Linked DNA regions of Homo sapiens: regions 1, 3, 4, 5, 6 and 7 are each linked to region 2. The links come from fine-mapping of genetic effects on gene expression. A gene starts in region 2. Each other region holds a variant in brackets. All regions are shown on one strand. Distances are between the middles of the regions. Region 1 overlaps ARSB (arylsulfatase B). Region 2 holds the start of ARSB (arylsulfatase B). Region 3 overlaps ARSB (arylsulfatase B). Region 4 overlaps ARSB (arylsulfatase B). Region 5 overlaps LOC124900191 (a long non-coding RNA gene). Region 6 overlaps ARSB (arylsulfatase B). Region 7 overlaps ARSB (arylsulfatase B).

Evidence for each region. PIP is the estimated chance that this variant, and not a neighbour inherited with it, causes the effect. A credible set is the group of variants that fine-mapping cannot tell apart.
Region 1: its variant is the best candidate, but not a certain one, in a credible set for the expression of ARSB in blood mononuclear cells (TOPMed, PIP 0.64).
Region 3: its variant is the best candidate, but not a certain one, in a credible set for the expression of ARSB in monocytes (Fairfax 2014, PIP 0.68).
Region 4: its variant is the best candidate, but not a certain one, in a credible set for the expression of ARSB in monocytes after interferon gamma (Fairfax 2014, PIP 0.86).
Region 5: its variant is the best candidate, but not a certain one, in a credible set for the expression of ARSB in monocytes after interferon gamma (Fairfax 2014, PIP 0.68).
Region 6: its variant is the best candidate, but not a certain one, in a credible set for the expression of ARSB in prefrontal cortex (BrainSeq, PIP 0.69).
Region 7: its variant is the best candidate, but not a certain one, in a credible set for the expression of ARSB in whole blood (TOPMed, PIP 0.53).

What each region holds. Positions count from the first base shown.
Region 1 is chr5:78,800,561-78,804,639 of GRCh38, reverse strand. All of the region lies in intron 6 of ARSB (arylsulfatase B), which reads left to right. Among named protein-coding and RNA genes, the nearest start is that of LHFPL2, 150 kb to the right of the region's middle. The variant G/A (reference allele first, on the strand shown) is at 2,513.
Region 2 is chr5:78,982,787-78,986,865 of GRCh38, reverse strand. It overlaps ARSB (arylsulfatase B), which reads left to right and starts at 1,556. Exons shown (of 8, transcript NM_000046.5): 1 at 1,556-1,929. The coding sequence starts at 1,618. RefSeq lists a silencer at 1,374-2,233.
Region 3 is chr5:78,776,337-78,780,336 of GRCh38, reverse strand. It overlaps ARSB (arylsulfatase B), which reads left to right. Exons shown (of 8, transcript NM_000046.5): 8 at 1-3,128. Among named protein-coding and RNA genes, the nearest start is that of LHFPL2, 130 kb to the right of the region's middle. The variant G/TTG (reference allele first, on the strand shown) is at 2,486.
Region 4 is chr5:78,809,498-78,813,576 of GRCh38, reverse strand. All of the region lies in intron 6 of ARSB (arylsulfatase B), which reads left to right. Among named protein-coding and RNA genes, the nearest start is that of LHFPL2, 160 kb to the right of the region's middle. RefSeq lists an enhancer at 3,393-3,893. The variant G/A (reference allele first, on the strand shown) is at 1,921.
Region 5 is chr5:78,765,461-78,769,524 of GRCh38, reverse strand. LOC124900191 (a long non-coding RNA gene) reads left to right here. Exons shown (of 5, transcript XR_007058832.1): 2 at 1,473-1,683; 3 at 2,661-2,767. Among named protein-coding and RNA genes, the nearest start is that of LHFPL2, 120 kb to the right of the region's middle. The variant G/C (reference allele first, on the strand shown) is at 2,175.
Region 6 is chr5:78,837,622-78,841,700 of GRCh38, reverse strand. ARSB (arylsulfatase B) reads left to right here. Exons shown (of 8, transcript NM_000046.5): 6 at 2,275-2,345. Among named protein-coding and RNA genes, the nearest start is that of ARSB, 150 kb to the left of the region's middle. The variant A/C (reference allele first, on the strand shown) is at 2,248.
Region 7 is chr5:78,949,025-78,953,103 of GRCh38, reverse strand. The region is part of intron 4 of ARSB (arylsulfatase B); the gene reads left to right. Among named protein-coding and RNA genes, the nearest start is that of ARSB, 34 kb to the left of the region's middle. The variant T/C (reference allele first, on the strand shown) is at 2,090.

The DNA of each region.
Region 1 (4,079 bases), 180 kb after region 2:
TAATTACAGCTTGCCTTTCTGCCTTTGGTTGTTAGTTTTAGTGTCTTAATTATCTGCCATGTCAAAAGATTTCTCCTGATCCCTCTGAGCTCTCTCCCTTTTGCTCCTAGTGGTGTTTTCACCCTGCTTGATAAGTTAGAATTGTACAGTGGTTTCCATTTCTTCTGTCATATAAACAGTAGGCAGTTCTCAACCTTCCCATCCTCTCTAACTTACTCTCTACTTTTTTTCCTTAAGAGAGGCTTATGTGATGACATTGACCAAGTAAGTCCTCTAACCTCAGTGATAGGGTGGTTCGGATGGGGTGGCAAGGAAAGGAAAAGGGAATTGAATCAGTTTTGATTTTTTAAAAATCATGCTGAGCTGAAGTGAAACACTTTTTTTTTTCCACAAAAACTGAGTCTGAAGGGATCTTTTTTTTTTTTTCATTCCACATTTTGGTTACATCTGCAGTGAGCAGTTGCAAATCCTGAGAGACTTCTCTTCCCTGGCATTTGTTTCATTTTGCAAGAGTCTCACTGTGCCTGTGTCTTATGTGAGCTCCTTGAAATGAAAGAACGTTAATGGCTGAAGACTGTTAGAGCCATTTGGGTGCCTGCTTATACCTTTCACTCAGCAGGACTGCCAGGGGCCCTGTCTGGCTCTGCCAGGTGCCCTCGGGTGGGAGAATAAGGGCACTGAAACAACAAATAGGCCCTTGACCAGACCTCCAGCTCCTTGCCTGCAGGGAATAGCACTGGAGTACAACGTCTAGTACAAAGTAGGTGTTCAATAAATAACCATCAAATGGGATAAAACCAGTTCCTAGCCCAGCACAGGTGCAGGGTAGATGCTCAGTAAATATTTGTTGAAGAAACGAATACATTACTATATCCCATGGGGGAAGACCTCTGGTCTTCATAGCACTTGCATCATTTGTAGCTCTGCAAGGGCTCTGGGCTGGATCGACTAGGAAAGCAGCCTGAGCAGGGAAGCAGATGGCTGATCAAGCCCTCCAGCCGAGGAGACCAGCACTGTTTCTGTGGGAACTTGGATGCCACTGACCTCACTCATGGAAGCTTGCAAGAGTGGTGCAGGCCCCAGTGGACCAAGGCCAGGGCTCTGTCTGCTCCCTTTGGCAGTCGGAAAGCAGCACACACTTAGCTTTGCCAGGACCCAGCTTCAGCGGCCTTCATAGCCCAGTAATTACCTCGTGATCAAGGGAGGGAGGGATGTGTGTAGAAATCACTTTTTAGTAGCACATATTTCTCTTGGAAAAGCCCCAGTAAGCTGCCGACTTTCTCTCAAGTGTTCAAAGGATACCAGGGAACTGACGGGCTAATTTAATTGTATTAATACAAGAGGCGGCCGTCCCTAGTGCAGAGGGGAGTGCGTTAGGGAGAATTGTCTGTCGGGAGGCTGGAGTTCCAGCTTCAACATGGAAGTGAAAACACTCTCCAGGAAAGCAGACGAGTCCCACTGGGGAGGAAACTGACTCTCTCCATGGCCCACAGGGCCTGCTCTTCATCTGTCTGAAGAAGCCTCTTTATTGCATTCAGATAAGTGTTTCACTTGAAGGAGAGCAAACACAACCAAATAATGACCTAGATGTCCCTTCCTCATGTTTTCAAACAGTCCCCCTTCTCTTTAATCCCTGCAGGAGAAAATGTCCTGGAGTTGAGATCTTAGGAGACATTGGTTCATTTAAGTCCATTATGAGACCTTCACAAGGCACCCCTTAAATCTGGCAGTAGGACCACAGTTTTATCCTGGCCACAAATTTAAAGACTTTGATCCTATTCCCTCTCAGGTATCAATGCAAACAGAACAATTCTAACATTTTTAGTATGGCCACCCCAACGTGGACACCAATTAGCTAAGCCAGGGAACTTTACTTCTATTTCCTCATCTATGCAAAGGGGAGAACAGGTTAGATGATGTCTAAGGCCCCTCAAGAACTTGAGTGCTCTTCATTCTGTAATCATTATCTCTCTAATTAGTTTCTCTTCTCTAAACTTTATTCTCCTCCACGGCCTCTGTTTAGGGGTGGAAGGTAGATGCTGTACCCTAGTGTGTGTTTCCCGGGGCTGTTTCTCAGCCTGCTGCTCTGTTCTCTCCACTCTCTATCTGTCCCTATTGCGATCATTCTCAAATCTAACTGTGACTGCAGCACTCCAGTTCATTCATTTATTCCATAATATTTCTCAAACACCCACACGGTGCTAGGTGCTGAATGAACAGTACACTGGTGAACAAGAGTCATGATCCCTGCTTTTTTTGGATCATATACTTTTCTAGGGAGACATGTATTAAATATATTTAATTTAATTTAACAAATATAATTTAAATAATATTAAATATATTAAATGAATATATAATGATAAATTGTAAGACGTGTTATGGAAGATGAACAGGGGTTGCCCTGATTTAATTTGGGAGGTCAAAAAATATCTGCTCTGAGGAAGTGTTATTTGATCTGAGACCTGGAAAAGGAGTTATCAGGCAAGGAGTTGTAGAAAGTGCTCCAGGTAGA[G/A]GAAAGAGCTAACACAAAGACCTTTGCAGCAGGGAAGGGCTAGACTGGATGAACAGAGCTTCGTGTGCCCAAAGAACTGAAGGAAACCAGTGTGGTTGGAACATACACAGTGAGAGCAGTGGGGTGAGATGAGACTGGGAGAATGACAGATTAGTTAAGATAACGCTGGCTGCTGGAACAAACCAAAACTGACATTCGAACAGTATAGACATTTATTTCTCATTTGCAGAAGTGCAAACTAGATATTCCTGAGCAGTTAGATATCCCTGTTCAAAGCAGTGTCTTGGAGACCACAGCTCCTTTCATTTTGCAGCTCTGCCATTTTTAATGACCTGCCAAGGCCAGCGTGCTTCTCTGCATGGAAGGCTGTGCATGAGAGGGTTTTCTGGGCCCAGGCCTGCCTGGAAGTGGTGCTCCCAACCGCACTCACATTCCGCCAGCACACACCCAACTGCAAGGGAGGCCGAGAAATGTGGTCAGAGTGTGATCCCAAGAAGGAGACAGGGCAGATGACGCAGACACTGTGGGCCATGTTGCAGTTTCAGTTTTATTCCTAGCGTGCTGAGGAGTGTGAGTGAGAGTGCACCTGTGGCAAATCCATCAGCACTTCTAAACCTACACGTTCAATTGCTAATGTCATGCAATTCATCTTCCTCCAAAAGCAACATCTCTCACGTGTTCTTCCAGTGATGCCATTCCAGACCTAGCAGTCCTTTTTCCTGCTCTATTCATCGTCTAGACTTACTTGACCAATCCAACCCTGGACTGGTTCAGTACTTCCCCGACTAGGCTCTTCAATTGGTTTCTTTCTGCTCTGATACAGAATGCTAAGGTACGTATTTACAATGTAGACTATCCCCTTCCAGTGACAGAGTTATTCCTGGCTGTTGTATAGAGCAACTTTTTTGTACTATCAGGTCATCCTAGAAACTTAATTAGTAATCAGAGTATAATGAACATGGAGATGTGTCTTTCTAAAACAGGCCTTTCATCCCTGCTAAAAAAAAATTTTACTTGCTTCCAAGTACCTACTGAATAAAGTTCTAACTTCTATATGTTGGAGGTACTAACGCAACCCATCTTTTCCTAACAATTCTTACTTTGTCCTCCTCAAGCCAGCCAGGGTGCTCAACTATCCAGAGTCCAAACAAACTTGGTGAATTCTCACCTTGTACTCTTCCACACTCTGCCTGGGATGTCCTGTTCCTGCTCATCCTCCTCTCTGAATCCTACTGATGTTTTAGTGCAAGCCTTCATCCCCTAAGTCTCACCTTCTCTGGGAAGTCTCCCCTCCAACCAACCAGAAATAGACTTTCCATCTCTGGAGTTCTGTAGTGCTTACTCTTCAAAGTAATTAATGCTTAAATTAACTTGTGTCTTACCACTCCTTTGGCATTTATCATGTATTGCCTTTTATTGACATTTATTCTCCCAATTCATTCTAAGCTTCTTAAGTAGAGATACTTTTCCTGGTATCTAAAACAGTACCTTGCACACCCTCCAAAAAATTATTAATTAATTTAATGTTTTTCTGTAATTCCTGTGACACCTTATACAGTTTCTTAAA
Region 2 (4,079 bases):
GGAGAATAGGAAGGATTACGGGGGAGAAAGACACAAAACCACAGCGGAAATTCTCAGTCCTTCAAGGTCTTCTACAGGGTGTTTAAATGAAAAGTTCAACCCTTGACATAATGAGTCAAACAGTTCTCTCAAAAGTTATTCTTTGAATTTAATGCTAAAATTTTCACTTTTTTCTGCTAAATTTCATTGATTCCACTAGAGATTAAAGTGCATACAACATAAACTAATCTACTTCATGCAAAGAAAAAAAGTGTATGTAAGAGGCAAACATTTCATGTGTTAAAGGATTCTTGGGGAAAAAAAGGTAAAATCATGACCCTCATACAAATATAAAAGTGAATACATGATTTTATTTAACTCATTAATAAGGAAATTGGTAAGGTGTTAAAACCAATTCAAAGGACAATCCAAAGAACAGATCAGGAATACTAAAATAAATATGCAAGCGGAGGTGAAACTGTTTTCCTTGGTAGTGGTGGAGGGGAAGGATTGCTACTCCGCTGGATAAAGTTCATTTGTGTATATATAAATAAGAATTATTTTCCATTGTTATTTATCTATAACTTATAAAGTTGTAAACAACTTCCACGGAATCAGACTCAACCTGGAAGGGTATGGTCTCTAGGCAATGCAAAAATTTTCCCCTACACCTGTTAACAACTATAATATCTCCAGACAGAGTAGACAGAAAGTCTGGATGGCAACGGGAATCTACTGGTCATACGGCTAACTTCCTAATTCAATAAGCACGTGACTAAAGGATTTTTTCCTTCCACTCAGATATTTCAGGCTAACTAGATACTGTGTGCTTCTTAGTGTCACTGCTTAGTGGGGGAGCCAGCTCTGAGTGGGGTCATATCCGGACAAGCGAATGAGCTATTTATTCAATGACCACGCAACACTCCAAATCCTCCCAGGGCAACTTGAAAGTAACCGCACCTTCCAAAGGGCACCGTGCAATCAGACTGTGTGTTTGGCCTCCTGTTTGCTAGTGGGGAGGAAGCGGCTTCATGGGTGTACACTACGCATAAATGAATGTGAAAGGCTATTTAGACCTCTGCCTTTTCACCGTCCTCCCACCTGCCACAGGCTGGGCTCTTGTGCTAGAAATGACTTGCTAGCTAGACATCATGGTTCAGGATCTGAGTCAGAGGTTTAACCATTTATAAGCTTTTTTCTTATGAAAAATTGGCACTAATTATAATGTCTAACTGTCAGAGTTGTTGCAGGCTTTACAGGAGACGCGGGCTGTGAAGATGCTTTGTAAATTGTGAAGCGTTATTAAAGAACACATCTTTTTTTTTTAGGAAACCACAGTGCAAATTTAATTGCCGGGGAAGATAACGGGCCTTGGTGCCCTCCAAGCGTCAGCTGAGTTTCCAAGAAGCCGGGCAGCGGGCGCCCGCGGGTTCGTCTCTGGCTCCTCCTCCGCCACAGCAGCCGGGGGCCCGGGTCGGAGGCGGCGGGGGCCGAGCGCCCGGCCTCGCAAGCCCACGGCCCGCTGGGGGTGCCGTCCCGCGCCGGGGCGGAGCAGGCCCCGGCAGCCCAGTTCCTCATTCTATCAGCGGTACAAGGGGCTGGTGGCGCCACAGGCGCTGGGACCGCGGGCGGACAAGGATGGGTCCGCGCGGCGCGGCGAGCTTGCCCCGAGGCCCCGGACCTCGGCGGCTGCTCCTCCCCGTCGTCCTCCCGCTGCTGCTGCTGCTGTTGTTGGCGCCGCCGGGCTCGGGCGCCGGGGCCAGCCGGCCGCCCCACCTGGTCTTCTTGCTGGCAGACGACCTAGGCTGGAACGACGTCGGCTTCCACGGCTCCCGCATCCGCACGCCGCACCTGGACGCGCTGGCGGCCGGCGGGGTGCTCCTGGACAACTACTACACGCAGCCGCTGTGCACGCCGTCGCGGAGCCAGCTGCTCACTGGCCGCTACCAGGTACGCGGCGCCCCCGCCGCCCGCGCCGCCCCCGCCCCGCCTTTCGCCGGCGCCCTGCCGCTCCTACCCGGCCCTTGAGGCCGCGGGCGCTGGCAGGCGGGGCTCGGACCGCCGACCCAGTTATGGGTCCCGGCGGCTTCTCGCCCCAACCTCGCTCTTCCAGGCCGGCAGCCCGCCGCGGCCTCTGCGCATGCCCGGCTCTGGCGCCCCGCGGACCCGCGCCCCGGCCGCCGGGTTGGGCGGGTGGCTTTGTCTTTCGTTTTCTGAAGCTCCGGGCGAAGGGGTTTATGGGAATGCCGGGTGCTGGGCGCCGCGGCCGGCAGGCGGAGCGGTCCTGAGGTGGGAGGCTGGGGAGGGCGTGGGCTGGGAGCAAAGACGAGGGGAGAGGTAAAATGAAGGGGTGCTCGCCGTGGGTGCGACCCTGGCCCGTGGGAACCCAGCGGTGATAGGTTAGGAGTGTCCCACCAAAGATTATTTTTTTCCAGGTTCTCAACACCCCTGGAATGAAACCTGATGCTAGGTTGATTTTTCTTAGGCTGCTGACATTCCTTTCACATGTAACCTTGTATTGAACTCTTCTGAGCATCTTCATTATCGCTTTAAAAGCTTCCCTTTAGGAACGGCTCCACAGTTAACGAAGGAAATATAAATGTAGAGCGTGCATAGATGTTAGATGGCTAAGAATATCAAGAACATTTGCATAGCACTTTGTTGTTTTTAAAGTGAATTATTGAAACAGTGCATGAGGTAGTTGTTTTTACCCCGTTTTACAGACGAGGCAGGAAGCCTGTAAAGGCTCGTTGGCATAAGAATCGCACAGCTAGAAAGTGGTCAAGGCAGTGTCCGTTGTGCTTTTCCTGCATCCACTGGTCGTCCCGGGCTTATGAAATTGGCCTTTTTTCCCCTCAATCTGAATACGATTGTCATATTTCTAAGACCCTGAAGTTATTATGACCATATTAAATACAGTAAATGGGAACTGTTGGATACCACCTGCATGCCTTCACAGAGTACATATGCTGTTTACTCAACAAAAATATTTTGAGCTTACTGTGCTACTGACAGGGGATATATATTTGAATGTTGCCCTCCCAAGTGTGTGTTCGCATAACCTGTCAGATCAACCCTAGCCTCACGTGGTCCTAAGATCAAGAGAAGGGAGGGCTTACTTGTGATAAAGATATGCGCAGTGGTCTGAAGGCTTTTATAAAGAGGAAAGATTGGGTGTTGCTAAGGGTGAGAAATAGCTGTAGCCAAGGTTAGAAATGGGAGTAAAGGATGCTTCCCTTCACCATCCACCTTAGTACTTTTGGCGGTTCTGACCTTGGCTGCTACGTGTAATTAGGAATCCCCTACATTGTGTAAATCTCACCCTGGACACTTTGTGGGAGTAAAGGGATGTGCCAGTAAAGAAGAAGAAGAAGGGAAAGGTGAGGTTTGCCCAAAGGGTTCTGCATTTGCTTTGAAGTAAGAGAACTGAACTCAGATTGCAAAAGAATGGAAGGGCCATTCATTTCTCCAACTTCCTCCCTTCCAACAGAGTTGGACAGGAAAGCAAATACCAACTTCAGAAACCCATTCCTGGGCCGGGAACGGTGGCTCACGCCTGTAATCCCAGCACTTTGGAGGCTGAGGCAGGTGGATCACCTGAGGTCAGGAGTTCGAGACCAGCCTGACCAACACGGCGAAACCCCGTCTCTACTAAAACTACAAAAATTAGCCGAGTGTGGTGGCATGCGTCTATAGTCCTAGCTACTCGGGAGACTGAGTCAGGAGAATCGCTTGAACTCGGGAGGCAGAGGTTGCAGTGAGCCGAGATCGCACCACTGCACTCCAGCCTGGGCGACAGAGCAAGACTCCATCTCAAAACAAAATAAAATAAAAAACCCATTCCCGTAATCAGTTGCTTTTGTCCCCTAACATCCTCCCCCACCAGTCACCAAAATTATGTCTTGGAGAACAAACTTTAGTATTTAGAGTACCCCATGGTTATGAAGTAAAGGATGAGTAGAGAAGCTGGGCACTCTGAAAGGTTTAGAGGCCTCTCAGTGTAGCTGATTCTAAAGCAGCCTTGCTTCCCCAAACATTTTTTTTCCTCCAGTTTTCTCACCCACTTTATTCTCTTAGAGTTCATGAGACCCAAGTAGATG
Region 3 (4,000 bases), 210 kb after region 2:
ACTCTTGTCTCATTTGTTATCCCAACCTGGGTTCACTTGGCCCTTCTCTTGCTCTTAAACCACACCGAGGTGTCTAATTTCAACCCCTAATGCATTTAAGAAGCTGATAAAATCTGCAACACTCCTGCTGTTGGCTGGAGCATGTGTCTAGAGGTGGGGGTGGCTGGGTTTATCCCCCTTTCCTAAGCCTTGGGACAGCTGGGAACTTAACTTGAAATAGGAAGTTCTCACTGAATCCTGGAGGCTGGAACAGCTGGCTCTTTTAGACTCACAAGTCAGACGTTCGATTCCCCTCTGCCAATAGCCAGTTTTATTGGAGTGAATCACATTTCTTACGCAAATGAAGGGAGCAGACAGTGATTAATGGTTCTGTTGGCCAAGGCTTCTCCCTGTCGGTGAAGGATCATGTTCAGGCACTCCAAGTGAACCACCCCTCTTGGTTCACCCCTTACTCACTTATCTCATCACAGAGCATAAGGCCCATTTTGTTGTTCAGGTCAACAGCAAAATGCCTGCACCATGACTGTGGCTTTTAAAATAAAGAAATGTGTTTTTATCGTAATTTATTTCCCCCCAGCCATTGCTCACTCTGTCTAGACTTCCTGCCACTTCCAATTCTTCTGTGGCTTTTCCTGCCTTTCCTTTTGACCTCAGTAGTCCTATCCCTGGGAAGGCCACTTTGCTTCTCTACCTGAGCACCCCTGATTTCTGGAACGCTGCTGAGCCCTGCCTTACTTTTGCCCCTAGGGCTGAAGCTAGAGGCCTCCCCGTAATAGGCGGTGGAGTTGCTCTGTGAGGATGTTCATGGTAGACACTAAGAGGGCTGGGTGGGAGATGCTTGGCTCTGTGGCATCTGTTCAGCGAGGCTTTTCCTATATTGCATGGAGTTAGTCATTGTGATTGTAGCTTTATTTCATAATATATTAAGACTTGCACTGCTATTTACTAGCAGTGAGAAGAAACCTCAGGAAAGGATATGAAAAAGCAAGTGGCCAGTGTCTGGGATACTGGGCCTTGGTAAAGCAGAGGAGGGCACACCCACAGTCCTCTTATTCTCTGTTTTACTGCTTGTTTTGAGGTTCTGGGGTCTGGCAAAGAGGATGCAGTTTGACACCTGCAGCCCTTTCTCAATCCCACTAATGTCTTACTAATGTGGAACAGTCCATATTAGCTCCAGAGAGTGTCAAACCCAGAGAAATGTGTGCAAAAATGATACTCTTTTCTGCATTAGCCCCACCATTGTGTTCACCAATGCTTGGAACACTGCCTGAAGGCACTCATTTTTTAATTTTTATTTTATTTTTAATTTTTTATATCTTTATGAGACGATCTCACTCTGTCACCAGGTTGGAGTACAGTGGTACAATCACAACTCACCGTAGCCTCAAACTCCTGGGCTCAAGTGATTCTCCCACCTCAGGCACCCAAATAGCTGGAACTACAGGCATATACCGCCACACCCAGCTAATTTTATTTTTTGAAAAGACAAGGTTCCCTATGTTGCCCAGCTGGTCTTAAACTCCTGGGCTCCAGCAATTATCCCAGCTTGGGCTCCAAAAGTGCTGGGATTACAGGCATGAGTCACCATGCCTGGCCTCATTTTTTAAAACAAATGAATAAATGGACAAATGAGTAAATGAGAAAGTCTCACACCATGAAAGATGCTAGTCCAATGAGCTGAATACAGAGGTAATATAAATGTCTTCCAGCTGTTGCTTTTCTGTTCTCAAGCTGCCCCTCCTGGGGTAGGAGCATAATCTACATCACTGGGCAGTCACAGGACACTCTATAGCAAGGTTGTAGCGTCCTCTCCAGTGGGGGGAGAAAAGGAACTGTGCCTACCAAAGGTACTCTCTTGTCAGCAATTTCCATTTCTATACTTTATGGGACACTAGAAACTAAAAGCAACAAATAATCTGATATAAGTCCTTGTATAGTCATCCTTCAATTCAGTAGCAATATTTTCTGGTCACTACTAACCTGTATTGTATTAAAATGAGACTATTGGAAGGAAATGGTGCTAAAACTAATAACATCTCTTACCAACCTTTACCCAACTCCTGGGTTGGCAAACAGCTGACCAAACTGCCATCACCTCCCACTTGGAAGTGTATGGCCGACAGCATGAAATAGCTGAGCCCAGATGTTCCTTCTGCATCCTCCGAATCCCAGGGCTGGGTGTAGGTAGCCGTTGGAGGCCATCGCTACAGGGCACCTATCTGTTATCGCTGCTGTCCTCCCAACAGCTGTCTCCAGTTCTAGTTCCTTGGTTTTCAGGCACAGTGGGGGATGTTCTGCACCCAGTGGACTTCAAAAGAGTTTTGAAGACTTAATTTTTTGTAAAACAAGTACTTGAGATTTTGGTTTATCCATAATAGAATGTATTTCATTAGATTCTCTGATTCTATATAAGAATGTGAAAAGATTGATATATTGTTGTTAGAAATAATGTTATTTCTTTCCAATTTTTTTTTTTTTTTTTTTT[G/TTG]AGATGGAGTCTCGCTCTGTCACCCAGGCTGGAGTGCAGTGGTGTGATCTCGGCTCACTGCAGCCTCTAACTCCCAGGTTCAAGCTATTCTCCTGCCTCAGCCTCCCAAGTAGCTGGATTACAGGCATACACCACCACGCCTGGCTATGTTTTGTATTTTTCGTAGAGATAGGGTTTCACCATGTTGGCCAGGCTGGTCTCAAACTCCTGACCTCAAGTGATCCACCCACTTCAGCTTCCCAAAGCACTGGGATTACAGGTGTGAGCCACTGTGCCCGGCAAATTTTTTTACCTTTACAGAAGGTTTTGCTTATTTAATTGTGAGCTCATTTTTCTTTGTTACTTTTGTCCCCCCAGATTTGGGGGACAAAATAAAATTAATCTTTTAAAATGTGTCAGCCATATGTATGGGGCTTCCATTTGGGGTGAGGAGAAAGTTCTGGAACTAGATAGTGGTCATGGTTATACAACATCATAAATGCAATTACTGCCACTGAATTGTATGTTTTAAAGTGGTTAAAATGTTAAGTTTTATGTTTTATTACAATTTTTAAATGTGTCAACCAACTTTATAGTACATAAATTATATCTCAGTAAAGCTGTTAAATAAATAAATATAGTAAAAATTTTAGAACTAAAAAAAGTGTCAATCATTGCCCTAAGAATATAAACTATAAAATAAGGTATTAGAGGGAGGTCAAGGAAGGGTAGGAGTGAAAACAAAGTGACAGTAAAAGAGAGTATTAGCTCTCTATTGCTGCGTAACAAATTACCCCAAAACTTAGCAGCTTAAAACAATAAACATTCATAACTTCACACATTCTATGAGGGTAAGGACACTGGGAGTGGTTTAGCCCAGTGGTTCTGGCTCAGGGTCTCTCGTGAGATTGTTGTCAAGCAGGCCTGTGGTCATCTGAAGACTTGAGTGGGGCTGCAGGCTCCACTTTTAAGCTGACTCACTCACAAGGCTCTTGGCTGGAGGCCTCAGCTCCTTGCCATGTGGGCATCTCCACAGGCTGCTTGGATGTCCTCACACATGGCAGTTAACTTCCTCCAGAGCAAATAAACAGGGAGCCACAGGGCCTTTCATGACCTAGTCTCTAGAGGTGTACACTGTCACTTATACCATTTTTCTATTTGTTAGAAATGAGTCACTAAGGCCAGCCCATATTCTAGGGGAGGAAAATCTTACTTTTCAAAGGGAGTGTCAGATTTGTGGACTTATTTCACACCACATCAGAGGAAAATGGTCTCGTTTAGCCTCCTGGGGAATAGATTGTCAAGTCCACATGCATTTATCAAATGCTGCTGTTTGAAAAGAGATGGTAGAAAAAGCATTCAACTTTGCTATTTAGCAGTAGACTAACCATGAACAAATCACTTCATCCTCTCTGTGCCTCGGTTTTTTTCCTGGTAAAGTGATGAGTTGAATTAGATAATTGCTAAAGTCTCATATCCCTAGTGTCCAGAACAATGCCTGGCACACAGATATTCTATAAATGTTGGTTGATTGGC
Region 4 (4,079 bases), 170 kb after region 2:
TTTGCTGCCCAGGCTGGTCTTGAATTCCTGGACTCAAGTAATCCTCCTACCTCAGCCTCACAAAGTGTTGGGATTACAGGTGTGAGTCACTGTGCCTGGCCTTGCATTTTTTAAAAGTGATAAGTAAATGCTATATGACTTCAGGTAGAGATTATATCTCATGTTTAATTTGTATAACTGCATAAGTAGAAAAACTGTTCATGAAAATATATTGGCTGGGCGTGGTGGATCACACCTGTAAACTCAGCACTTTGGGAGGCTGAGGTGGGTGGATCTCCTGAGGTCAGGAGTTCAAGACTAGCCTGGCCAACATGGAGAAACCCCATCTCTACTAAAAATACAAAAATTAGCCGGTGTGGTGGCACATGCCTGTAATCCCAGCTACCTGGGAGGCTGAGGCAGGAGAATCACTTGAACCCGGGAGGCAGAGGTTGCAGTGAGCCGAGATTGCACCACTGCACTCCAGCCTGGGTGACAGAGCAAGAGAAAAAAAAAAGAAAGGAAGGAAGGAAGAAATTTACTTATTCCATCTCTGTACACATAATTTGTAAACTTTTTTATCATCAATTATTATTATAAATTTTTTGAGACAGGGTCTCACTGTGTTGCCCAGGCTGGAGCGTAGTGGTGTGAGCACGGCTCACTGCAGCCTCGATCACCTGGGCTCCAGCAATCCTCCCATATCAGCCTCCTGAGTAACTGAGACTATAGGCACATGCCACCATGCCCGGTTAATTTTTGTATTTTGTAGAGACAGGGTTTCGCCATGTTACCCAGGCTGGTCTTGAACTCCTGAGCTCAAGCAATCCACCTGCCTCAGCCTCCCAAAGTGCTGGGATTACAGGCATGAGCCACCACATCAGCCCATCAATTATTATTAAACTCATGTGTACCAGTACAATTTCAAGCCCTCTAAGCTGCATTTAATGCTAAATTGTGATATCATGTGTGTGTGTGTGTGTGTGTGTGTGTGTGTGTGTGTGTTTGAACAGAATGTTCATATGACTTCATTTCTATAATAATGTGATAATACAAATATTTGGGGTCATTTTAATCGTATTAGCATTTATCTTTACCAAATTGATTTGATTGTTGTGTAGCCACTTCTCATCTGTTACATATACACGTTTTACATATCATTCAAACTTGAAATTTCCTTAAACAACTTTCCCAGCCTGGTTTCGGATGATTGCTTGTTGAGACTTTGTCCATGCTCTGTCCTCCCCTCCCCACTGTAAATACTCTTCTTTTGGGCTAGGGGGCTGTGCCCTCCAGGGTATTGTTTTCCTTCCTGTTCAGTGCCCATGCTCTTGCCTGTGTTTCTCCTGTACCTTTCCCAGGACCTAGCAGACAGCCGAGCACCTGCCCACTGCTCTGTAAATACTGACCTGCATCTCAAGTGGGGTAGCCTTTGTGTACTTTCCCATTTCCAAGTTGATTTGCCTGTGAATCCCATATGTGAACACATATGCAGATGTCCCTGATGTGCTCTTTCCTGCTTGGAGGCACATGCAAGGATGTGGCACTTTTTCTAATTGCTTGAACAGTCAAGTGGATCTCTCTTAGGCAGCACTTGGCCAAAAATTCTGAATATTTAATCACTGGTACAGGATTAGTTCAGTTGGCCAAAAAGAAAAAAAAAATGTATGGATGAAATGTGAATACACTGTTAACTTTTTCATCTGCCTTTATAATTAGTGTTTTTTCAATATTAAGTTTCTGCTTTTTATACTGAGTTTTTAGGGAAAAAATATGGGAAGGATTCCATATTCATTGCTTCACACGATCTATAGTTCCTGAGATAACTATATAATTATGAATGTTGATACACCCATAAGAGACTTTGCTTTTTCCTCTCACACATCTGTTTTGCTTTAGGCAAGAGAACTTTCTCATGCCAGAATGGCTGCAGTGGATGTA[G/A]GCAATCTGCTTTATGTTGAGCCGCTACAATTCACAGATGCAAATGTTTAAAAGGTTAACATGGTTATTTCTTCATCTGAAACAAACGTCCCTAGTCACTACTTTTGTCCTTTAAAAAAAATTGTATTCTTTTATAAATCCATTGTGTGTAATCCTTATACCCTTGTCTCATAATCCTCATATCAGAGCTGAATTAACTCTTTTGTGGCCTCCTGTGATGAATTTCAGTTGTCCTACTAGTTTCTCTTGCTGGTGTGATTGTGTCCTCTTGATGGAATTTAGGTTCTTAGGGAGAGAATGAGGGAAGCAGCTTCTCTACCCAGAACAGAATCCCACTAACCGAAAGAATGCTGCCCTGCAAAAAAGTTTCTAGTGTATCCATGTGTGATCTCAATTATTTAATCAACAAACATTCCAGAGCATCCATTGTTTCACTGTACTAGGAAATGGGGGCAAGACCAGGATAGTATACGGAGGCTAACCTCAGCAACTGCAGTCCAGTTGGAAAGATGAAACCTAACATGATGATAGGATGGCAGCGGGTTGTGAGTGTCAAACGCATGCTTCTGTACTGCGCTCCTGCTGCCTCCAAAAGCAGGGGGAGCCTTCAGTTCATCACACCTACAGCTCTGGACATTTTTTCATGTTGTTAAATTAATCTAACATTGTAGGATCTGAATTTTCTATAGAAACTTTACCTAACTTTTCTTGTATTGCTAATTTGTTGTATTGAGTAAGCCTTCTGTGTAGAAAACAGTTTAACTATGTTAACAACACTATGTCAAAGATTCAAAGCCTTTGAGAGCTTAGGAGAAATCCAACCCCAGTCATTTTCTGACACAACTGAACACAGTACTCTGTGGTTGAAAGTTCCTGAAACTCCCAAAGCACAGGAAGGCTGACTACAGATCCTAAAGATGTTTAACTCACATAGTCCTTGGTGGCACTTACTGTTTGCAGCTGGAGGGCCTTGTATTTTCTTAAAATGCATCCTAAATAAAAACTCAAAAGCCATTCAATGCTAATTCAAGTTTCATGGTTAAAGGCGCAGCTTTGCTGGCATCTAGAATTAGAACCGTGTGGTGTGTCCCCCAGAAAACGAGCTCTCATGGCAAAAACAGACAAACTCTACCCCCTGCCAAACTAACTGTCAGCAGAAATCTGGTCTGCTTTCTGAAATGGGATGTAGGTTTCCAAATTCTCTAGACAATCTCTTTCCAAAGCAAAGGAGAAACAAATAACTCACAGGCACCAACTGCATTTTCTGTTCAAAGCAAGAAGGGTTTTCACTGTGCTGTTTTTACCTGTCATTTCACAACTCAGTTCTCTCTGGAGCACTTGTACCAAGGGTACAAGAAAGTCATGAGATCAGAGAGCTGGTTTTGGACATGCACTTAATCACTCCCATCCTTATTTCCCCTGCTTCCCTGATGCCCCTGAATAGCAGGCTCTGTCCCCGAAAGAGAAATGAGAGTTAAAGAAATGACCACTTAACCTTTTCCTTTGGTAGGGAGGTTCTAGGAGGCCAGTGAAGCTTGCGGGGGTCGGGAAATTTGAGAAGTGAATGGAGATTAGGAGAACAGAGTTTGCTCCAGATGAGCTTTGGAGCTGTGCCTTTTCTTCTGGAACTCACTACCGGATCAAGGGGTCTAGTGGGGTGCCCACCACACTGGCCACCAGACCAGGCTTGATGGAAAGGGCCCAGAGATGGGTCCTGCTTGTGCAGTCTACAACTGCCAGCATCAGCTGCCCCCTATTCCTCTCTGTGGCCCATGGTCAGCCAGAATCAGAGGGCCAAAGCAATGGGCCTGTAGCTTGAGAAGCATGTCAGCAGGCTGGGGTTCAAGGCCAGGCCTACAGGCCCGCAGTGGAGAGGGCAAGGCTGGCTCCAGGTCCGATGGGCAGGTTGCCAGGACGTGATTTTCAGAGCAGGAAAGTGGAGTGAAGCGTGACTGGCAGTGAGTGTGAGCAGACAGCTGCAGAGTCGTCTCTGCCTAGTGTTAGGCCTGGCCGCAGGCTCTGGCGGCCCTCAGCCTGACCGTAGGATGGGTCTCCCAGCTTCAGCTGAAGGCAAGAAGTGCCGCTGACTTGGGGAGCTGAGCCAGACCTGGCTCCTGCCCTCCTCCCTGAACGTGCTCCAGGATCATCTGTCTGCCTGT
Region 5 (4,064 bases), 220 kb after region 2:
TTAGATGGAGTCTTGCTCTGTCACCCAGGCTAGAGTGCAGTGGCGTGATCTCAGCTCACTGCACCCTCCACCTCCTGAATTCAAGCGATTCTCCTGCCTCAGCCTCCCAAGTAGCTGGGACTACAGGCACATACCACCATGCCTCTGGGTTTCACCATGTTGGCCAGGCTGGTCTGGGACTCTTGACCTCAGGTGATCCACCTACCTCAGCCTCCCAAAGTGCTTGGATTATAGGTGTGAGCCACTACACCTGGCCAAGGATCTATCTTTGAAAAGAGGAACAAAAACTATGTTTAGGTTCAGATAGCATGTTTTGGATTAATATATAAATTAGAGGACTCCCTACTGGTCAACACAACCTGGTTAGAAAAATACATTGATGGCTAAACTGGCAACATTGTTGCCCCATGTAGCTGGGGCCAGGCATGGTGATTCATGCTTGTAATCCCAGCACTTTGGGAGCCCGAGGCTGGCAGATCACTTGAGGTCAGGAGTTCGAAACCAGCCTGGCGAACATGGCGAAACCACATCTCTACTAAAAATACAAAAATTAGGTGTGGTGGTGCATGCCTCTAATCCCAGTGACTCAGAAAGCTGAGGAAGGAAAATCACTTGAACCCGTGAGATGGAGGTTGCAGTGAGCTGAGATTGCGTCACTGCACTCCAGCCTTGGTGAGAGAAAGACTTTATCTCAAAAAAAAAAAAAAAAAAGTTAAGTAGCGAAGCCAGAGTCATTATGTCCACCACCCCTCTTACTGTTTGGGATGAGGCAAAGTCCCTGCTTCTCAGGCAACAGTTTTGGGGAGTCACCTTCTGAAGACAGGACCTGACTGGGGCTGCTGTGGGCTTCCGCTGATGGTGCTTTTAGAATATGTCATCCCGGCTGGGGCGGGTGGCTCATGCCTGTAATTTTAGCACTCTGGGAGGCCAAGGTGGGTGGATCACGAGGTCAAGAGATCGAGACCATCCTGCCCAACATGGCGAAACCCCATCTCTACTAAAAACACAAAAATTAGCTGGGTGTGGTGGCGGGTGCCTGTAGTTCCAGCTACTCAGGAGGCAGAGGTAGGAGAATCGCTTGAACCTGGAGGCAGAGTTTGCAGTGAGCCGAGATCGGGCCACTGCACTCCAGCCTGGATGACAGAGCGAGACTCTATCTCAAAAAAAAAAAAGAGAATATGTCATCCTGGTGATCACCCCAGTCCAAAACATCTAGTTACTAAGCAAAGCCAAACTAGGTCCAGCTAACCCATCCCCAGATGGCGGGAGACAGCCTCTCTTGGGACAGGGAAGGCATTGAGCAGTAAGCAGTGGGTGCCATTAGCCCTTCCCTTTGTTACTAAGGTTTTATCCATAACATCGTCAGTGAGTAGAGATTGACCTTACTTTTACCAGTACTTATTATACATTTTTAAGATTCTTGCTGGATTGACAGACTTTAAAATGTTAATTTGTGTTTCTTTCACTGCCAGATGTTTGCACTTTTCCATGTGTTTATTGGCCCCCATGGCTCTTTCCTGAGTGGCCTGACCAGCCCTCTCCCCCAGTCTCCTGGGCCCCATAGTAGAGGGAGCAGAAGAGGGTGGGAAGGAGCCCCAGCTGGGAGGAGACAGGAAGGAAAAACCAGCCTTTGTTTGAACCTGAACCCTCGTCCCAGGCTGGCTACCAGTCCTCCTGTTCCAGGTGGGCATTCTGAGCACACAGCTGTCTCTGATTTCTATTTTGTGTCTGGAATTGTGGCAGGAGGTGAGGAAAAATGAAGAGGTAGCCAGAGAATAGTCAAGGTCCTTTTCCTTTCTATGGACAGAGCCAAAGTGAGACTTGTGAGCACATTGGAAAGGCTACTCACTTGGTGATCCTTCAAAGTGATCTTTTTTTTTTTTTTTTTTTTTTTGAGACAGAGTTTCACCCTGTCATCCAGGCTGGAGTGCAGTGGCACAATCGTGGCTCACTGCAACCTCTGCCTCCCAGGTTCAAGCAGTTCTCCTGTCTCAGCCTCCTGAGTAGCTGGGATTACAGGTACACAGCACCACACCCAGCTAACTTTTGTATTTTTAGTACGGAAGAGGTTTCACCGTGTTGGCCAGGCTGATCTCAAACTCCTGACCTCAGGTGATCCACACACCTCAGTCTCCCAAAGCGCTGGGATTACAGGCATGAGCCACTGCACCTGG[G/C]CAATGTTCTTTTAATGTTGGGACATTAATATTGGAATAAGGGCCCTGCTGGGAAGAGCTAGAGAGGGAAGGCCACTGGGCGCTGCCCAGTCCTTGCCCTCTGATCCAAGCACACAGGTCTGGTCCCAGTTGGAACACCCTTTGGCAAAAGGAAAGCCCTACAGATAACTGACTGCCTTTTTTAGAAAGCAATTTAACAACCACTTATTTCTTACTAAGAGTAGCCCTTGGGACCATCTCACCCTCACTGCCAAGGGTCTTACTCCACCCAACCCCACACAGGCTTTCCCTGAGAGGGGTTCTGAGGATCTCTGGGGATGGTGCTTTGATGCCTTCTGGCCCTTCTACTTGGGTTGGCCCATCCCTGAGTCTGGATCAGTTCTGGGAACCCCTGAGCCCCTTTTCTTTTGAGCAAGGCTCAGTGCAGGAGGTCATGCCTTCTGTATAAACACCTTATTATAATGAAAACTTTCATTCAATTTTTAGCCTTCCTTTTCCAGTATGAATAATCCCAGTTTCTTTCATCTGAACTCCTGAACCTCCTTCAGCTCTTCCAGTCCACCAGCACCCTCGTGATTCTGGGCTTAACACAGGTGAGTCCCTTGGTGCAGTTCATTCTTCTCTTTTCTCTTTGCTTGACTAACGCATCCTTCAGGTTTAAGCTGAAAGGCCCCTTTCCCTGGGAAGGTTTTCCTAACCCCGCTGAACTGGAATGGGAGTTCCTGACTCACGCATCTCCCATAGGAGTGGTCATCACACTGTATTGTTAATCAGTAGAAATGGCCCGTGTCTGCTTTGTTTCATGGAATATCTGCCTCAGAGCAGGGCTTGGCTTAGGTAATACTAGTAGGATGAGTGTTCGATTTGTTGAATTCCAAGGACCTAACCACCTTCTGATTTTAGGATGACATTTTAGTCCTTGATTTCCCTCTGGTTCTTGTTCCAAACCCTGACGTTCTGCCTGCAGACCCTGCATTCTCAGCCTCCAGGCAGCTCCACCCTGCTGCCTGCTCTAGGGAAGTCTGTATCTGGAGCTTCAAAGGGCTTGTTCTCTATTAGCTGGGAGGGCTTCAGCACATTCGTCAAATCAGGGCGGACTATTACACTATCCAGACTCCTCAGGCAAGTTTTGTTTACCCTGGGATCTCCTCCAAGATATAAGCTTATGGCTTCAAACACTTTTTATGGTCTCCAGATTTGAACAGACTCAGATTTTCCCCCTTCATCTTCCAATCCTTCCCTAAGATTTTCCCCCTTCGTTTGTTCATGCTTTTTTACAAATGCTTTTCCACGTGTGACTTCCCTGCAGAAAACTGGCTCCATCACTTATACCTGGTGCTGAGATTAGTCTTGCAAATGCCGAGGACTAGTTACAAAGGGCAGGTGATGTGCTTCCTGATGCTGTTTAGTTATCAATCCATGTTTACAGAGGCGTTCCTTCTTCCACAGGGTGGGTGTGGGTGTTCTTTTGATTTAGACACAGTGAAGATAAACTAGTGGTTTCCTTAAGGAAAGTGAAGTTGGAAAAAAAATGTAAGGCAGGAGTTGAGGTTAAAGAAGACACAAGCTTGGTCTCCTATGTGTAGACTAAGATAGCTTGAGTCTTGGTGGTCACAGAGGCCAAACTCGTCTTGGCCCCTCCCTTACCTTCCCTTTCAGAACGTTCCAATTGCTTCTGGGTTCTGTGGCTCAACATACTCCCCCCGGTTATCCATGTCTCCTGCGTACTCTGCCCGCTCCAGTTAGTCCTTGCCTCCAACTTAGCTGAGAGCCATTTAAAGTATGCCACCTCCCTGGATGCTGGCAGAGGTTCCTGGTTATCCCAGTATTCAATATCTAAGCCCCAAAGTCATAAGGTGGCATGGGGAAGCAGAAGTTGTTACAGCACAG
Region 6 (4,079 bases), 150 kb after region 2:
GAATGAAGAGTATGTATATAAACTCTCTCTAAAGTTATTAGGAAAATGTTTTTATTTAATTGTGCCTAATATTTTGGGGTATTACAGTGAACTCTACTTTTAAAGCTGCGTAGTTATGTATTAATATACTGGCCCTGAAATTTTTGAGTTTTCAACCTATAGTCCAGAAAAAGCCTTTATTTTTAATAGTTGCCCTAAAAATTTAACACAAAAGTTTTACTTAGCTAAATCTAAATTTAATCAGTAGCTTTACCCCACTTCCAAACAATATAAATACTTTAAAATGCTTTCATTTGATTTCCTTTCCTTGCTTGCTATTATTTTCCAGGATTTTAACTCTGTTTGCTTGGTTTTATTTGTTTGTTTGTTTTAAGACAGAGTCTCACTTTGTCATCTAGGCTGGAGTGCAGTGGTGTGATCATAGCTCACTACAGCCTTGAACTCCTGGGCTCAAGGGATCCTCTTGCCTCAGCCTCCTGTGTTGCTGGGACTACAGGCATGCACCACCATGCTCAAATTATTATTATTATTAGTAGTAGTAGTAGTAGTAGTAGTAGTAGTAGTAGTACAGACCAGGTCTCAGTATGTTGCCTAAGCTTGTCTCAAACTCCTGGCTGGCCTCAAGGGATCCTCCCATCTCAGCCTCCCAAAGTGCTGGGATTATAGGCGTGAGCCATTGTACCTGGCATACTTGTTTGGTTTTAAGCCCACAAATTAGACATCATCATCATTCTATTTAGATTTTCTCATATTTACCATTTTCTTTACATATCATTTCTACTTCCATTCAGAGCTTCTGGGATCAAACCGTAGTTCCTGGCATTTTGGACTGGTTGATAGTCTCCAGGATATTCAGGCAGTTAAGTGTCTCCGAAAGAAAATGAGAAAAGAAAGGTCCTGGGAAATATGCCCCACCCCCACCCCTGCAGTGCTGCCGCTGCTGTCCCAGGACCGTGGGCACCCCTGAATGTTTCTCTTCCACTGTCTCTGATCACTGTGATTTATGGAGTAGAGGGGGACAATGACATCTGATAGAATACCAAAGTTAAATATGCTCAATTTAAGGAGCTGTTATTTATTCAGAGATCGTGTCTTTCCTACCTTTTTTGCTGTTTATTTTATAAAATAATGGTGATGGTAGTTGAAGTTTGTTATTTTGTTTTGTTTTAAATTAATTCATTAAGATTTGTTTTTATATTTCCTTACTTGGCAAATACAAAGTTGTGAATCACAACCCAGATTTTTTGAAATTGTATTGGGCATTGAAATCCCAAACCACTGCTATCAACAGCTAACTGTGAGTTTGGCGTGTGGACACTGGGACACCTGAAACCATGTCTTGGTTACGTCAGGAGCCTTATTGATTATTTATATTATGTATGAATCCTGTGGTGTTAACAGTACTTTGCAACCTTTAGTACTTAGCTGAACTGTATTAGATTATCAGGGAGTCCTCAGTACACCCTCAATGATTTAAATTGTTTTTAGCTACTTCTGTAAGGCTGAGTCTACACTAGCAAAATGACCTGGGTGCCTATTGTGCTCCCTACATACATCTGGTGATGTTTATGCTCCCAATTTCTTAAGAACACTGCTTTGAGAGTCACACAACCCAATATTCTACCAATAACTTACTATGTACCTTCATCATTTGTAAGAAGAGGGGGTTGAACTAAGCGATCTCCAAGTCACTTTTCAGCACAAATGTAGGTTGTGATTGTATTTGTGTGTACACATTTTTTAAAGCCTTAAAGAGATCTAGGTATTTCTCATGTATTTATATTAAATCTAAGATCCGTGTTGCAAATTTGGACATGGAGGACATTAATTTTTCTGATGTAGGTTACTCTTTAAGAGGCATGTTGCATCTGTAATATTGGTGCCACCATTTTGGCAGATGCAGTTTCTTCATTTACTCGTAAGTGTTCAGTATGAAGTCTATATGAGGTGACTTGAGTTCTCATTTCTCTGGTGTAAAAAATGGTCATGTTTAAATAAGGCCACAATATTTATTTCAAAGGGTCCCAGAATCATTTTTTAAAATATCTTCATATGCTTGACACTGAAGTTCTTATGTAAAGGGTTCGGTCAATGTAAACAAACGATGACTGCTTGAAGATGCACCAGCCGTGATTGTGGAGACCTCCAAATTCATGACAGAGTTGTTAACTGGCAGGTTTGTTATTTCCTATAAGTACAAGGAAGGGAAGTATTAAAATAATTCATGCCCATTAGAGAGAGGAAATT[A/C]ACATTCCCTTAAAAATTGTTTTCCAGTGAAGGAAGCCCATCCCCCAGAATTGAGCTGCTGCATAATATTGACCCGAACTTCGTGGACTCTTCACCGTGTGAGTACCAGTGCATTGCTACTAGATTAAATCTAATTGGCCCACCAAGATGGTTTGATTACCTAGTGTGTCTCTAGCCTAGCTTTCTCTTTTTTCCTGAGTTGCTATAAAGGTAAACAGTTCTTCGGGACATATCTCCCGCTCATCTCAGAGGGCAGTGTGCTGTGAAAGCAACACCAGCTTATGAAATAAGAAAGGTGAATTCTATTCTTGCTCTGCCGCTTACTAGCCTTTAAGCCATTGAACTCTCCCTGCCCCAGCCTTCCCCATTTACAAAAGAAGAACTCATGGCATCTCTGAGGCTCCTTCTCACTGTAGATGTCATGTTGCTGCCCTGTTCTTACCTGAGAGCTCCAGAGCCACCTTCCAGAAAACTCACAGTCAGATAAGCCACAGTTGGGTTCCAGGTAGTGTGAGCAACCACATTATCTGATTGGGCTGGTCAGGTACTGCCCAACACCTGCTGGGTGTCACAAGTGTGACTTTCCTAGCAGTCCTGGAAGTGATTCCGCTTGATTCTGCCTCCTGCCTAAATTAACCTGTAAAGAGCCTTACCATTTCCTTCAGGGCAGGCATGCATGTAGTGCTTCCAGATCACAACGGACTGTAATAGGCCTGTATAAATACCATGCGAGTGGCCCTAATGCCCTCAGCATAGTGAGTTTGGGCATAGAAAGCCTTAGCAATTAGACCCTTTGCCCAGCTTTCATCATAATGCTCATCTTGCAAACAGTGCCCTTATATTCCCTTATTCACATGGGGGCTCCCATCCGCTCCTTTCTGGACATACTGCTGCCCACTTAGTTCAGGCTCTCCTTACTTCTTTGTTTTTTCCAAACTGCATTATAGCTCACCACAAAATATTCTCATTCAGAGATTCCTGCTCAGAGAATTACCCCACAGTCATTCTAAATGTGTCACCAGGCACTCGGGCCCCACTTGCCCGGCCAGCCTCACTCCAGGCACTCCTTGTCATGTTCTCACTTCCTAGACACTTGTCATCTCCATGCAGATCATCGTACTGTCATGAATATGCTTTTCCCTATGCCTGAAACACATTTTCCCTACCTGTCTATAATCTCTCTCATCCCTTAAAAACCCAGCCCCATGTCTCCCTCTGTGAATGCTTTCCAGAGCCCCAGAAGGAGCAGTCACTCCTTCCTGTGTGCATGTGTCTCCGTATAGCATCCCTCACATGTTCGTGTTTGTGCCTGCATTTCCAAGCTGAGAGCTCCTGGAAGTCAGCATCTCCTGTATTTTTTTATCCTTGTCAGTTAACACAAATACTGGGAGCTTGCTAGGCACTCAGTAATGATTACTTGATGACTCAGTGGACAATTGGAGAGTTGAGATGCAATAAAGACCAAGTGGACACATTAAGACCTGGACAGGAAAGGGCCCTGAGACAGGCGAGAATGGCTACATCGTGGAGAAATTTCTATTTCTTTTGGAGTAAACGCATGTCAGTGAGAGAGGCAAGGGCAAGGTTTGAGCCCTAAGGACTGTAAGAACAGTCTAGATTTGTGCTGTCCAGTATAGTAGCCACAGGCCACATGTGGCTGTCAGGTACTTAAAATATGGCTAACTGTGGATTGAGATGTGCTGTGAGTAGAATATATACATCCGATTTTCAAGACTTAGTACACCTATGTATTATATGCATACAATATTATAGATTTATTATTTGTTGAAAGGATAATACTTTGGATATATTGAATTAAATATATTGTTAGT
Region 7 (4,079 bases), 34 kb after region 2:
TTTCTCCCAAAACTTACTCTTCAGAAAAAAAAGGTAGACATATTTCAGCCCTTAACAAGATCTCTCAGATTCTGGGAGTCATTCTCAATTTAATTTATTTTGAATATCCTGGCATAGCATTTTGATCAGTGCTGGTTTTGAATGCCTAGAGAAGTCACTAGAAAGAATCAATTAAAAAAAAGATGCTAGGACATGTAACACTGGTGTAGCAAAATTATTCCTGGGAAATGACCTCATTGTTGCAAGAATTGGAAGTCATAAGTTTATAAAACAAGTCTTTGTTCTAGAGATCACAATTAGACAATTTCAGGACAAATGATTTTCTAAAGTGAAAGTATATATGGATTAATGTATTGTACGTGGGCTTAAATGTGCTCAGACAGAAGTGAAGATGCTAGTTCTGGAAGACTGTATTAAATATCTCTAAGTGGCTCTTGTGATAACATTCCCATCAAGAATGCATGGGAGGCTGGGTCTGGTGGCTGACGCTTGTGATCCCAGCACTTTGGGAGGCCGAGGCAGGCAGGTCACTTGAGTTCAGGAGTTCAACACCAGCCTGGGAAACATGGTGAAACCCTGTCTCTACAAAAAATACAAAAATTAGCCAGGTGTGGTGGCATGTGCCTGTAGTCCAAGCTACTGGAGGGGCTGAGGCTGGAGGATTGCTTGAGCCTAGGAGGTTGAGGCTGCAGTGAGCTGAGATTGCGCCACTGTACTCCAGCCTGGGTAACAGAGCGAGACCTTGTTTCAAAAGAAAGAAAGAAAGAAAGAAAGAAGAGTGCATGGGAAGAGGTGGAATACAATTTTTTTCATGATATTTGAGAATGGAAAAATATTTTAAGATAAATATTTCCTTTATTATATGATTGCAAATGTGTATGTATAATTGTACTTTCAAACAGATAGTTGACTATTTCATAAACATCTATATTTATTCAAGCTGGTAGTAGTAACATTTGGAGCTTCTCACTGAGAAAATGAGGATCACCTTAAATAGGATTGTCTTATATTTTGATACTATATTAATAGATATCTTAATCTTGGATCATCTTTGCTTTGTTAGGTTAAATCCAACTTGACCGTGCCTATGTATTTTTATTATACTGATGAATTCAGTTTGCTAGGGTTTCATTTAGGATTTTTGCATCAATTCAGAAGTGGAAGTAGAGTTAGTGGTTTCTTTTTTGTGTCAGGTTTTGTTGTCTTGGTTGTGCTCACTTCATAAAATAATGTGGTTAGTTTTGCCATCTTTTTCTATGCTCTGGAATAGTTTATAGAATGTTGGAAAGATCTTTCTGTTTAGCTGGTCCCTGAAGCCTTTTGTGGAGGCATTTAAAAAATTATTTCCATAGTTTACATTTTTTGCTGAATTATATCTAGGTGTGTGTCTTTAAAATGTTTTGAAATTAATTTTGCCTGAAATATAGTGAGCCCTGAAACTGCATGCTGAGATGATTATTCACTCCAGGAGGCTTTCCTTGTTCCTATTTTAGCTTATTGCTTTTGTTCTACTTGATTTATGTCTCAAAAATATCTTTAATTACTGTGTTGAATCCCTGATTCAGCTTTTCTCTCATCCTTTTCATTTTTTTTGTCCTTTTTCTCAGGCTTTGGAGCTCTTCTGCATTACCAGTTTAGACACTTTTGCAATTTTAATCCTACACCTTAATATCTCCAACATAGATTATTGTTGATTGTATTTTTAGTTTTTTTGCAATGCTGTCTCTGTTTCAATCAGTACCCTTTTCTTCCAAGCTTGTTAGTATAGTATAGTATAGTATTTAGTAGCATTAAACCTCAATGTAACCCTGTGAGATAGTAAATGGTTTCTTGATCCCATTTACCAATGAAGAAATCAAAACTTCTTTTTAAAAAATAAAATAAAAAAATAAAGATAGGGTCTTGCTATGTTGCCCAGACTGGTCTCAAACTCCTGGGCTCAAGTGATCCTCCCACCTCAGACTCCCAAAATGCTAGGATTATCAGTGTGAGCCGCTTAAAGAAATTAAGCGATTAGTCCAAGGCCACACAGCTAACAACTGAAAAAGCCAGAATTCAAACCCAGATCTACTTGAGGTCAAAACCCAAT[T/C]AACCTAATCAGTTGTCTTTTTGCATCTCATTTTCTTTTCCATTTATTTCATCCCATTGTACTGCATTTCTACGCTTGTGTTCACAGGACCCATCCTTTTCCTGAACCTTTCTGAATAGAACTTTTCTAAAATCTTTATTTTTATAGGAAGTCATTGCCAGCTAGATGCTCTTCCTTGGAGTATAGTGGTGAAGGATCTGCACACACAGAATGTGTGGCCGTCTTGTGGCCTCTGGTCACTGTTTCCTGGTTGATTCCTTCTCAAATCTGCAGCTTGAGGTCAGGTTGATGCATACACCTCACAGAGTTCCTGGTGGCATATAGGCATTAAGTGTTCTACTCTATTGAACCTGACCCACCTAGTTACAGTTTCTTCTTTTTTGGCACTCTAATTCTTTGACAGGCTAAAAGAACCCCAGACTCTTCCTATCTCCACATTTTCAGGGCTTTATTTTTGGGGACATTCCTCAGGATACAGTGTGCCAGCACTGCCAGACCTTCTCTTTTCCTGCCTATTGTCTTCTGGGAGTTGTGATCTCTAAGCACACAGAAGTAGAGGAGGTAATAATTCTCCTCTGCTTAAATTAGTGCCATCCCTTCTCAGGCTGTCTTCCTGCCTCTCTTAATCTAGGTGAAGGGCTCTGTGTCATGAGGCAAAGCAGGGTGGGCCAGTTCTTATTTCCTCAGCCCAGCTTCTCTGGTCTTGTAGTTTCTGGACATGTTTCCAAGATTCTGGCATTATAAGCTGTCTGTCCATCTTGGTTTCTTATGTTGTGATGGGGTTTCATCTTGTTCTGTGTTTGTTGTTTTCGCAGGGTAGTGGTCCAGAGAAGCAGCACTAGTGGCTGTTAGGAAGACACCATTGTATTCTGGATGCTTGTCACCATGGCTGATCTTTGTAGTTGCTAAATTCCAGGAACCTGCACAGGAATCTGACCTGGAGTAAAATGAGTTAAGGTTAGGGACAACTCTTGAGTAACTAGGTCATGAGTTAAGACTAGGAAAACCGATTCTGCAACCCTGAAAACAGTGATTGACCTCAACATCTTAATGCAGCCATTGTGTATTTATATTAACTCTTTTTTTTGTTTGTTTTGTTTTTTTTGAGATGGAGTCTCGCTCTGTCACTCAGGCTGGAGTACAGTAGCATGATCTTGGCTTGCTGCAATCACTGCCTCCCGGGTTCAAGTGATTCTCCTGCCTCAGCCTCCCAAATAGCTGGGATTACAGGCGTGTACCACCATGCCTGGCTAATTTTTGTATTTTTAGGAGAGACAAGGTTTCGCCATGTTGGCCAGACTGGTCTCGAACTCCTGAGCTCAGGCAATCCACCCACCTCAGCCTCTCAGAGTGCTCGGATTACAGTCATGAGCCACCACGCCCAGCCTGTATTAAGCCTTACCAGAATAATTAGTTTTACTTACATTTAGATGAGGGTTTGAATATAAGGAGAAACCTAATTTGCATTTCTTTCTCCAGAGACTTCTGTGTTTATTGACAATTTCATTTCCTGAAGTTGAAATTAATAATGTGCTATAATAATGTAATTATAACCCAAGGACCTGGACTAACTAATCACAGAGCAGTGATTCATTTTTTCCCACTTCTCTCACTTTACTTCACTTAGCCCTGTACTTCTTTATAAGGATAAGAATACTGGTTGCATTCAAATCAATAAATGTTGAGTCCATTAGTACAGAAAACCATGAAAACAATCTAGCTTCCTGGTGTTGGATTATATTTGGTGATCGGTAAAGGCAAAGGCATAATTTTTAGATTTTGATGTTTGATAAAGCTAACTTTTAAAAATTTCTGTTATAATCTGAGAGAAATCCATGATTCATTCCTTGCCACCTCTACCCATCATCTTAGCATAGTTATTCTCAGTGCGCTGTCTGGGGACCACCTGCAGCAGTGGAGCATTTGTTAAAAATGCAATTTTCAAGGTGATGGCTGCACAACATTGTGCCATGTTCTAAATGTCACTGAA